Linked DNA regions of Homo sapiens. The protein of the gene in region 2 purifies or fractionates together with the protein of the main gene of each other region. This does not show direct contact. Each region holds a gene or a part of one and is shown on either strand. Other genes may lie near its edges.

Region 1 (4,956 bases), on a different chromosome or scaffold from region 2:
CCTTTCTTAACTTAAATGTAGTGTAAGAGTCCCTTGTTCTTTAGATAAAAGGGAAATTTTCTGCCCATTTTTTTCTACTAGTCTTCATTAACATTAAAAAATATAGTTGTGTTGGCCAGGCGCGGTGGCTCACGCCTGTAATCCCAGCACTTCAGGAGGCCAGGGCGGGTAGATCGTGAGGTCAGGAGATCGGCCATCCTGGCTAATATGGTGAAACCCCGTCTGTACTAAAAATACAAAAAATTAGCCAGGCGTGGTGGCGGGCACCTGTAGTCCCAGCTACTCGGGAGGCTGAGGCAGGAGAATGGCATGAACCCGGGAGGCAGAGCTTGCAGTGAGCCGAGATTGCACCACTGCACTCCAGCCTGAGCAACAGAACGATACTCTGTCTCAAAAAAAAAAAAAGTTGTGTCTATTTGTTCTTTCATAAATAATGAGAGATTTAGTATACTTTAATTCCTTCCTTCCTTCCTTTTTTTTTTTTTTTTTTCTGTCACCCAGGCTGGAGTGCAGTGGTACAATCTCATCTCACTGCAACCTCTGTCTCCTGGGTTCAAGTGATTCTTGTGCCTCAGCCTCCTGAGTAGCTGGGATTACAGGCACCTGCCACCACGCCCGGCTAATTTTGTATTTTTAGTAGAGACCAGGTTTCACCATGTTGGCCAGGCAGGTCTCAAACTCCTGATCTCAGGTGATCCACCCACCTCGGCCTCCCAAAGTGCTGGGATTACAGGTGTAAGCCACTGTGCCCAGCTTTAATTTCTTTTTTGTTGCCCATCTACCCCCACTAACTTTTTGCCTTAAAAACATTTTGGCTTTTAGATCCAGATTATTGTCTTTAAAAAAAAAAAAAAGTAATGCATGCTTTTGCTTTCCAGAATTATTTTTGACATTTATGTTTCCTAACCATACTAACAGCTGCTATCTAGACTGAGAGTTACATAGGTTACAATACTCAGTCCATTTCCTATGCTCAATCTTCATTTTTACTTATTCCTTGATTAGTTGGAATCTTTTTCAGGAAAGATAGTATATTCCGGTAGTTCTTGCTTGCCTAAGAACTTCTTTATGTTGCTGTTTCACAGTAACATCATCCTTTTGGGGCATACACTTCTTCATCTTAATCTTTTTACCTAAAAACTCCAAATATTATTCTTTTGTCTTCTGGCATTTTGTATGATGGAAGATAAGTTGTGGCCAACTTTATCAAAATAACTATGAAAGTCCACAAAAGTTTTGTTTCTTTCCCTTGTAATGACTACTTTATTTAAAAAAACCTTAAAATATATAAAACATAACACAGATATAGGAAAGGACATGAAACAAATGTGCAGTTTAGTGAAATATTATAAAGTGAATGCCCGTGTGACCACCATGCAGGTCAAGAAGCAGGACACAGCCAGCTCCCAGAGCCCAGTGCACCCTTGAACCACACCCTGCTTCCCCCTGGAGGTAACAACTCACCTTCCTTTTATGGTAACCATTTTCTTGCTTGCTTTTATAATTTTATAATCTAAATTTGCATCCTCAAACAAAGTACATCAGACTTGTTTCTCTGAAACTTTAAAAAATTAGAACTGTACCATTTGTATCTTATTCATTGTTATAACATCTCCATGGTGACTACTTTGATGCTTCAAAAAATATATATCAAATTTATTCCAAGAATATTTGGAGCCCTACTTTGCTTGGTGCTCTAAATTGGGGAATCCAGCACAGCCAAGAAGGAAGTGGTTTGTGTAAGACAGTGGTCAGTTTTAGACAAGACGAGTTTGAGGTGGGGATGGCCAGCAGAGAGGCAGACGTATGCATGTGTCATGGCTGGGACCCGAGATCTGAGTTGCAGGTTCAGGGTTATAAACACGCACGTGTAGGTTTCAAGATGGCACCATGGACCTAAATATTTGCCTTTCTTTTCTTCAAAGTGTCCAAAGACAAATATAGTAAGGAAAACATCGATTTGAGTTTTAGAGAAGAGAACAAACACTGGGCCTAGATTCTTTAAGGACTCTGTAAAAGTTAGAGTACAGATGGTGCCAGCCAATATCACCCAGCCCATGAGTATCAACAAGGGGCTTTCCTGGGAAGAAGCAGTGGTGTCCTCTCAGCTGAGTGCTAGTATCCCCAGGCTCAATGAAACAGGGCTAGATGGGCTGTGGTATGGTCAGTGGGGTGGGGATGAGGGATATAAATCTAAGGGCCGTGGGAAATCTATCAGCACTGCCACCTTGAGTGGCAGATCCCCATCTTAGTCTGCCTGTGTTGCTATGAAGGAATATCCAAGGCTGGGTAATTTATAGAGAAAAGGTTTACTTTTCTCATGATTCTACTGGCTGGAAGACTGGGCAGCTTGTGGAAGCCTCAGGCCACTTCCACTCCTGACAGAAAGCAAAGGGGAGCTGGCGTGTGCAGAGATCACATGGCAAGAGAGGAAGCAAGAGAGAGGGGAGGAGATGCCAGGCTCTTCTTAACAACCAGCTGTCATGGGAATGAAAAGAGTGAGAACTCACTCACTACTGCAAGAATGGCTCCAAGCCATTCATGAGGGATCCACCACCATGACCCAAACACCTCCCACCAGGTACCCCCTCCTTCAACATGGGCTTTGGAGGGATCAAATATCCAAACCACAGCACCCTCAGTTCCTCAGACATGTGCTGAGGGAGCTCCCAGTAAAGTGGGGATTTAATATATCCAGCTTCAAACAAGGTTGATTCTGATCACTTCACCAGATGCAGCTAAAAATAAAGATACAAAAGTATGTAAATAAACGCTATTCCACCCAGCAGTAAATACCTGTAATGTATTTGATCTAACATAGGGCCTCATCCTGCAAGCTTCCAGGGCAGGATCTGGAGGCCAGGGAGCTTAGGATCTAGGTACCTGAATACAAATTTCAGTGCTCCATTTAATGCCTGGAATGGTTTTCTCTGTGCCTTTTTTCCAGCTGTGAAGTGGCTGAAAAAAACTTTCTAAGCCAAGTAGTAAATCCCTGTGGCTTCTATCAGTAGCAGCTCTAAGGACCATTTGACATCCTTCACCCCATCCCCATGGCTCCCTGAATTGATGACAATTCTAGTAGTTTCCATGAGTCCAGGCTAGACTTTGGTTTCCATGTCGATGTTGCCTTCCATTCTGCCTGGGCTACTTTGCTTGGGTTCCTGTTTCATATGGCCACACTGCCCCTGGCTGAAACTCTGGATTACTTTAGAGTCCCCCCACCTTCTTCCCTGCTTCCAGCCCAGTCTTCCTCCATCCATAGTTTATTATTATTGTTTTTCTGAGACAAGGTCTCGCTCTGTTGCCCAGGCTGGAGTGCAGCAGTGCAATCATGGCTCACTGCAGCCTTAACCTCCTGGGCTCAAGCAATCCTCCCATCTCAACCTCCCAAGTAGCTGGGAGTACAGTGTATGCCAACATGCCTGGCTTATTTTTTTTAAAATTCTGGTAGAGACGAGGTCTCACTATGTTGCATAGTTGATCTTTTTAAAACAAAAATCTAATCTCATCATTTCTCTACCCTCCGGATAAAGCCCAAGCTCCTTACCTGCCTCAACTGCTTTTCCTCTTTTTCCTTTACGCTCTACCCTCTAGGTAGGCTGAACTACTCCATTTTTCTGAACATGCTTTCCCACCCTCCCAACCCTTCCAAAACAACTCTTTCCACCTCCTTATATGCCCTCTCCCCACCTTTTATCCAGCCAGTTAGTTCTTTTAGAAAGCCAATAAAATAGGCAAACTTCCAGAAAGCCTAATTAAGATACAAAGGCAAAAAAATTCACAAAGCTAGAAATGACATATGGAGCAGCATGGAGAAAAGATGTAAAATCTCAAGAACATTGTGCATTATTGTATCCCATCATCTGTGAAAATCTTGATGAAATGGACTATTTCCACTGAAAATATGCATTACCAATATTTACTCAAGAAACAGAATGTCATGTTCCCAGATGGGAAGAACCGATGTTATAAAGATGTCGATCCCTCACAGTTCCTGCCGCGTGAATGGCAGCCTCCCTGGTAACCAGAAGTGATGGAGATTTGTTCCTATTTTTACGTTCCTTCGGTAATTTTCTGTGGAATTTTGAAAGGGTCGTTAAATGTTTGTGCTTGATTGTGAATCATTTTATTGAAGGGAAAATCAATACAAGGGCATTTGAATGTTATTTTTAAATTGTTTTTCTCAAAGAACAAATGAAGTTATTAAACTTTGAAATGCATGGAGGCTTTATGAAACAATTTCATTTAACAATGGATGTGATTTTCTGCTTGTGTTATTTTATTGAGTATGAATTTTATCATGTTTGCTTTCTTTACTCGGCATGGAGTCTCCATAAGAATATCTAGGGGTTTACTTTCAAAAATCTACCGTGAAAAGACAGGACAGGAAAAGTGAGGGCGGGTTTGATTCTTTCCTGCTTTCCTCATGTCAGATGGCAGAGCATCCATACTGATTATCTCAGCATCCCTTTTTTTAGAATTTATTCTCCTTCCCTCTTAACACCATATTTCTCTTAAATCTTTCCAACACCCTCATTTGTGTCTTAAATTAGCTACGTCTGTTACCATAGTTATGCAGTATCCAGCTTAACCATTCCACACTCATTCCCACCATACTGTGTGTGAGACTTCCTCTCTCTTATTTCATAAAATATATCATTATTTTTCTTTATTCGTCTCCTGTCCCCAAACTTTTAGTTTTTAAGGCAACACTTGTTCATACTTAATGAATCAAATAGGACTGAAGGGCTTCTAATAAAAGGCAACAATCCCTGTACAAATCCCCCCCCCCCACAAATCCCTTATCCACAGGCAAACCAATTTTAGCTGTGTTTTTTTGTTCTGCTGTAGATACCTCTGTATCCCAAAATAATATGCATGTACTGCTGTTTCTGAATGTATCAACTGTGATCATTGTCTAGTGACTTTCTGCCATAAAAATTAAGGTTGAACCAG
Region 2 (4,956 bases):
CCTCCCAAAGTGCTAGGATTTCAGGTGTAAGCCACTACGCCCATCGGATATTTGTTTCCTTTTCTTCTGTTTTGAGATGGAGTTTCGCTCTTTTCGCCCAAACTGGTGTGCAGTTGCGCAATCCTAGCTCACTGCAACTTCTGCCTCCTGGGTTCACGCAATCCTCAGCCTCCTGCATAGCTGGGACTGCAGGCATACACCACCACCCCCAGCTAATTTTTGTGTTTTTAGTAGAGATGGGGTTTTGCCATGTTGGCCAGGCTGGTCTTGAACTCCTGGCCTCAAGTGATCCGCCTGCCTAAGCCTCTCAAAGTGCTGGGATTACAGGCATGAGCCACCATGCCATGTCTGATATTTGTTTTCTAATAAAGAATGGACTTTGGGAGACTGAAGCAGAGGGATCACTTGAGGCCAGAAGTTCGAAACCAGCCTGGGTAACATGGCAAAACCTGTCTCTACTAGAAATACAAAAATTAGCCATGTGTGGTGGCACACACCTGTAATTCCAGCTAGTTGGGAGTCAGGGAGGTGAATCGCTTGAACGTAGTAGGTGGAGGTGGCACACACCTATAATCCCAGCATGTTGGGTGTCAGTCAGAGAATCATTTGAACCTAGGAGGTGGAGATTGCAGCAAGCCAAGATTGCACCATTGCACTCCTGCCTGGGCGACAGTGTCTTGCTCTGTCTCAAAAAAATGGAGTAGATCCTTTGTGTGACCTCTAAACCCAAAGGCTACCACAATCCTCAGAGATAGGTAGAGCAAAATGTTAGTGTAAGGCTGGGCACCGTGGCTCATGCTTGTAATCCCAGCACTTTGGGAGGCTGAGGTGCCAGGATTGCTTGAGCCCAGGAGTTAAGACCAGCCTGGGCAACATAGAGAGACTCCATCTCTAAGAAAAAAAAAAAGTATACCTATTTTACAGAGACATAAACTGAGACTCGGAGAAATTAAATGACTTGCCTAAAGTCATAGGAACTGGTAAAGGCAAAATTGAGACTCATGGCCTTGTCACCAACCCGGTACTCTTTCTGGTTTATAATACTGTATTTTCCTAAGTCCATCAGCTAAATATATTATTTGGTATAATGGAAAATCATTTCCACCAAATGAGGCAAAGTTAAATTTGCAGATTCTGTGTTTTCGATTTTCTCTACCCCTTGCAGCCACAGGAGGAAATTGCTACTAAGAAACTCCGACTAACAAAACCAAGTAAATCTGCAGCACTCCACATAGATCTGTGTAAAGCTACCTCCCCAGCAGATGCTTTGCAATACTTGCTCCAGTTTGCCAGGAAGCCTGTCGAGGCGGAAAGCGTAGAGGGAGTAGTCAGGATTCTCTTGGAACATTATTACAAGGTAAGAAAATCTTGAGGATCTGATGGGAGTATATCATGGGAGTTGTATCATGTCTGCAGAATGGTTAATATTACAAATAAATAGGGTATTCATTAGGAAGCTTTTATTGAGTGTCTTCCAAGTGCTAGGTACTATGGATACCGAGATAAAAAAGATACAGATCTTGACCTCAGAAAGTTATACTGTGTATAGTAGATGGAAACAAGACATGTCAATGATAAGGTGCATCATACTGCTGAAGTTACTGTGAGTGCAGTATGTGCAGAGTACAGTGGAAGCACAAAAGAGGAGTAAATATCAATCATGACCCATTCATCTCTGGAATGTGGTCCTGCTGTTCCTTTCCTAATTCATGGCCCTCATATCTAATTGCAGTGGCCCTCTTTTTTAATTAAAAATACATTTTTTTTTTTTTTTTTTTGGAGACAGAGTCTCGCTCTGTTGCCCATGCTGGAGTGCAGTAGTGCAATCTTGGCTCGCTGCAACCTCTGCCTCCTGGGTTCAAGCGATTCTCCTGCCTCAGCCTCCTTAGTAGCTGGGATTACAGGCACGTGCCACCACACCCTGCTAATTTTTGTATTTTTAGTAGAGACGGGGTTTTGCCATGTTGGCCAGGCTGGTCTCGAACTCCTGACTTTAAGTGATGCAGCCACCTTGGCCTCCCAAAGTGTTAGGATTACAGGCGTGAGCCACTGCGTCTGGCCAAAAAAACTGTTTTTGAGACAGAGGCTCACTGTCACCCAGCCTAGAGTTTAGTGGCATCATCATAGGTCACTGTAGCCTGGAACTCCTGGGCTTAAGTGATTCTCCTGGCTCAGCCTTCCACGTAGGTGGGACTGCAGACGTGCCACTACTCCAGGCTAAGTTTTGCATTTTTTTTTTTTTTTTTTTTGAGACTTGGTCTGTCACTCAGCCTGGAGTATAGTGGTGGCACAATCTTGGCTCACTGCAACCTCCGTCTCTTTGGTTTAAGTGATTCTCCTGCGTCAGCCTCCAGAGTGGCTAGGACCGCAGGTGTGTGACACCACACCCAGCTAATTTTTTTTGTATTTTTAGTAGAGGTGGGGTTTTGCTGTGTTGGCCAGGCTGGTCTTGTACTCCTGACCTCAAGTGATCCATGCACCCTGGCCTCCCAAAGTGCTGGGATTGCAAGCGTGAGCTACCATTCCCAGCCCAAAAATCATTATTATTATTACTATTATTATTTTTGAGATGGGGTCTTGCTTTCTCGCCCAGGCGGGAGTGCAGTGGTGCTATCACGGCTCACTGTACCCTCGACCTCCGAGGCTCAATTGATCCTCCTGCCTCAGCCTTCTGAGTAGCTGGGACTACAGGCATGTGCAGCATGCCTGGCTAATTTTTGTATTTTTTTTTTTTTTTTGTAGAGACAGGGCTTTGCTATGTTGCACAGGCTGATCTCGAATTCCTGGGCTCAAGCAATCCACCCTCCTTGGGCTTCCAAATTGCTGAGATTACAGGTGTGAACCACCACACTCAGCCCCCAAATTGTTAAGCTTATGGAAAAGTAGATAAAATACTATAGTGACCTACCAAATATCCATTCCTAGAATTTAACAGTTATTAGTATTTTGCCAAATTTGCTCTATTTTTTCGCTGAATTTTATTTTATTTTGTTATTATTTTTTTTGAGATGAGTCTCACTCTGTTGCCCAGGCTGGAGTGTAATAGCACTCCTGGGTTCAAGCAGTTCTCCTGCCTCAGCCTCCCAAGTAGCTGGGACTACAGGAGTGCGCCATCACGCTCAGCTAATTCTGTATTTTTAGTAGAGATGGGGTTTCACCATGTTGGCCAGGCTAGTCTCGAATTCCAGACCTCGGGTGATCCACCTGCCTCGGCCTCCCAAAGTGCTGGGATTACAGGTGTGAGCCACCGCGCCCAGCCTTGTTTTGTTGAATTTTTAAAAAGATATGTCATTTTTTTCTAATTATTTCATTACATATCTATTAAAAAGGGATACCTTTTTGTTGTTTTCTTTTTTTTTCTCACTGCTATGAGAAAGTAGAGGGACTTTTTATTTTTTAACATAGCCACCTAACCCTAATGAATAAAGTTAAGTAATTCTTTAATGTCATCTAAGAATTAGTTGATATTTAGATTTCTGTAGTTGTTCTCCCAGTACCTTTTTATAGTTGATGTATTCAAATCAAAATGCAAACCAGGTCCCCACATGGCATTCAGTCTTTTCAAAAATCTACAACAGTTACTATTTTGGTGACATTGATTTGATGAAGAAACTGAGACAGTTCTTTTGTAAAATGTCTTGTTTTCTGAATTCATTTACTTCTTTAAGGATTAACTTGTTCCTCTGTTCTCTGTATTTACTATGAACTGAAAGTTAGATCTATAGGCTTTGTTAGATTTAAGTTAAGCATATTTTTGACAATTTTAAGACTATGTTATAAATGGTGACTTGTACTTCATATTGCAGCTATCAGCATGCAAATGTCACCGTTACATTGAGGTCTTCCTTTACCCTTCTGTTTCATATCGAAACTGCCTATCCCCACCCCGCACTTCCTAGTCCCCTTCCTTGATTTTGTTTTCTCCATAGTAATTACCATCTTCTAATATTCTGTATAATTTCTTGTTAATTATGTTCCTTGTCCATTTCCCCATGCAGGAACATAAGCTTCCCTTGAGCAGGGATTTTTATGTTTTTTAATTGTTGTTTCTACAGAATCAAGAACAGTGCCTGGTAAAATAAATATTTGTTGAATGAATAAATGAATTAATTGATGCTTTTGTGATACATTTTACTCAACAAATATATATCAGACTTTGTTCTGGGCACTGGACGGTGTCCATTAGCACAATTGTTAAGTCTTATGCGTTGCAATTGTTTGCCATATGTGTCTATCTCCTTCAGACTTTGAGCTCCGTAAATTCAGAGGCTGCAGATCCATTAGTCTCTATCCCAGTGCCTGGCAGGTTCCTAGGAACATTGAAGGGACATTATAAATGTTTCACTTATGTTTTACGTGAATAAAATCAGGCTTTCTTTTTTTGTTGTTCTTTTCTTTAAAAAATTTTTTAAAAAATCGTATCTATCTATCTAGAGACTGGGTTATGAGACTGGCTAATTTTTATATTTTTGATAGAGATGAGGTTTCACCATGTTACCAAGGTTGGTCTCAAACTCCTGGGCTCAAGCGATTCACCTACCTCAGCCTCCCAAAGTGCTGGGATTACAGGCATGAACCACTGTGCCTGGCATCTTTTTGAGTGTTGCTCTGTTGCCCAATCTAGAGTGCAATGGCGTGATCACTGCCCACTGAAGTCTGGACTCCCAGGCTCAAGCCATCCTCCCACCTCAGCCTCCTGAGGAGCTGGGACCACAGGCACATGCCACCACTCCCGGCTAATTTTTTCTTTTTAATTTTTTTTGTAGAGATGGAGTCTCTCTGTGTTGCCCAGGCTGGTCGCGAATTCCTGAGCTCAAGCAACCCTCCTGCTTGGCCCTCCCAAAGGATTGGGATTACAGACGTGAGCTACCACATCTGACCAAAATCAGGATTTCTGTTCTCAAGAAGTTTTCGATCTCTCAGTGATCTATTTTCCGTTAGTCTTTTTCTTAGCAA

What was found. Proteins that work in one complex are often made in the same cells at the same time.
Region 1: the proteins of INTS4 (region 2) and ADD2 purify together in Homo sapiens (affinity purification with mass spectrometry; one large-scale study listed by BioGRID and IntAct). This does not show direct contact.

What each region holds. Positions count from the first base shown.
Region 1 is NC_000002.12:70,757,126-70,762,081, reverse strand, and holds part of ADD2 (beta-adducin), read left to right. Parts: intron 1-4,956. UniProt on the Homo sapiens protein: Membrane-cytoskeleton-associated protein that promotes the assembly of the spectrin-actin network. Binds to the erythrocyte membrane receptor SLC2A1/GLUT1 and may therefore provide a link between the spectrin cytoskeleton to the plasma membrane.
Region 2 is NC_000011.10:77,987,509-77,992,464, reverse strand, and holds part of INTS4 (integrator complex subunit 4), read left to right. Parts: intron 1-1,165; coding exon 1,166-1,357; intron 1,358-4,956. UniProt on the Homo sapiens protein: Component of the integrator complex, a multiprotein complex that terminates RNA polymerase II (Pol II) transcription in the promoter-proximal region of genes.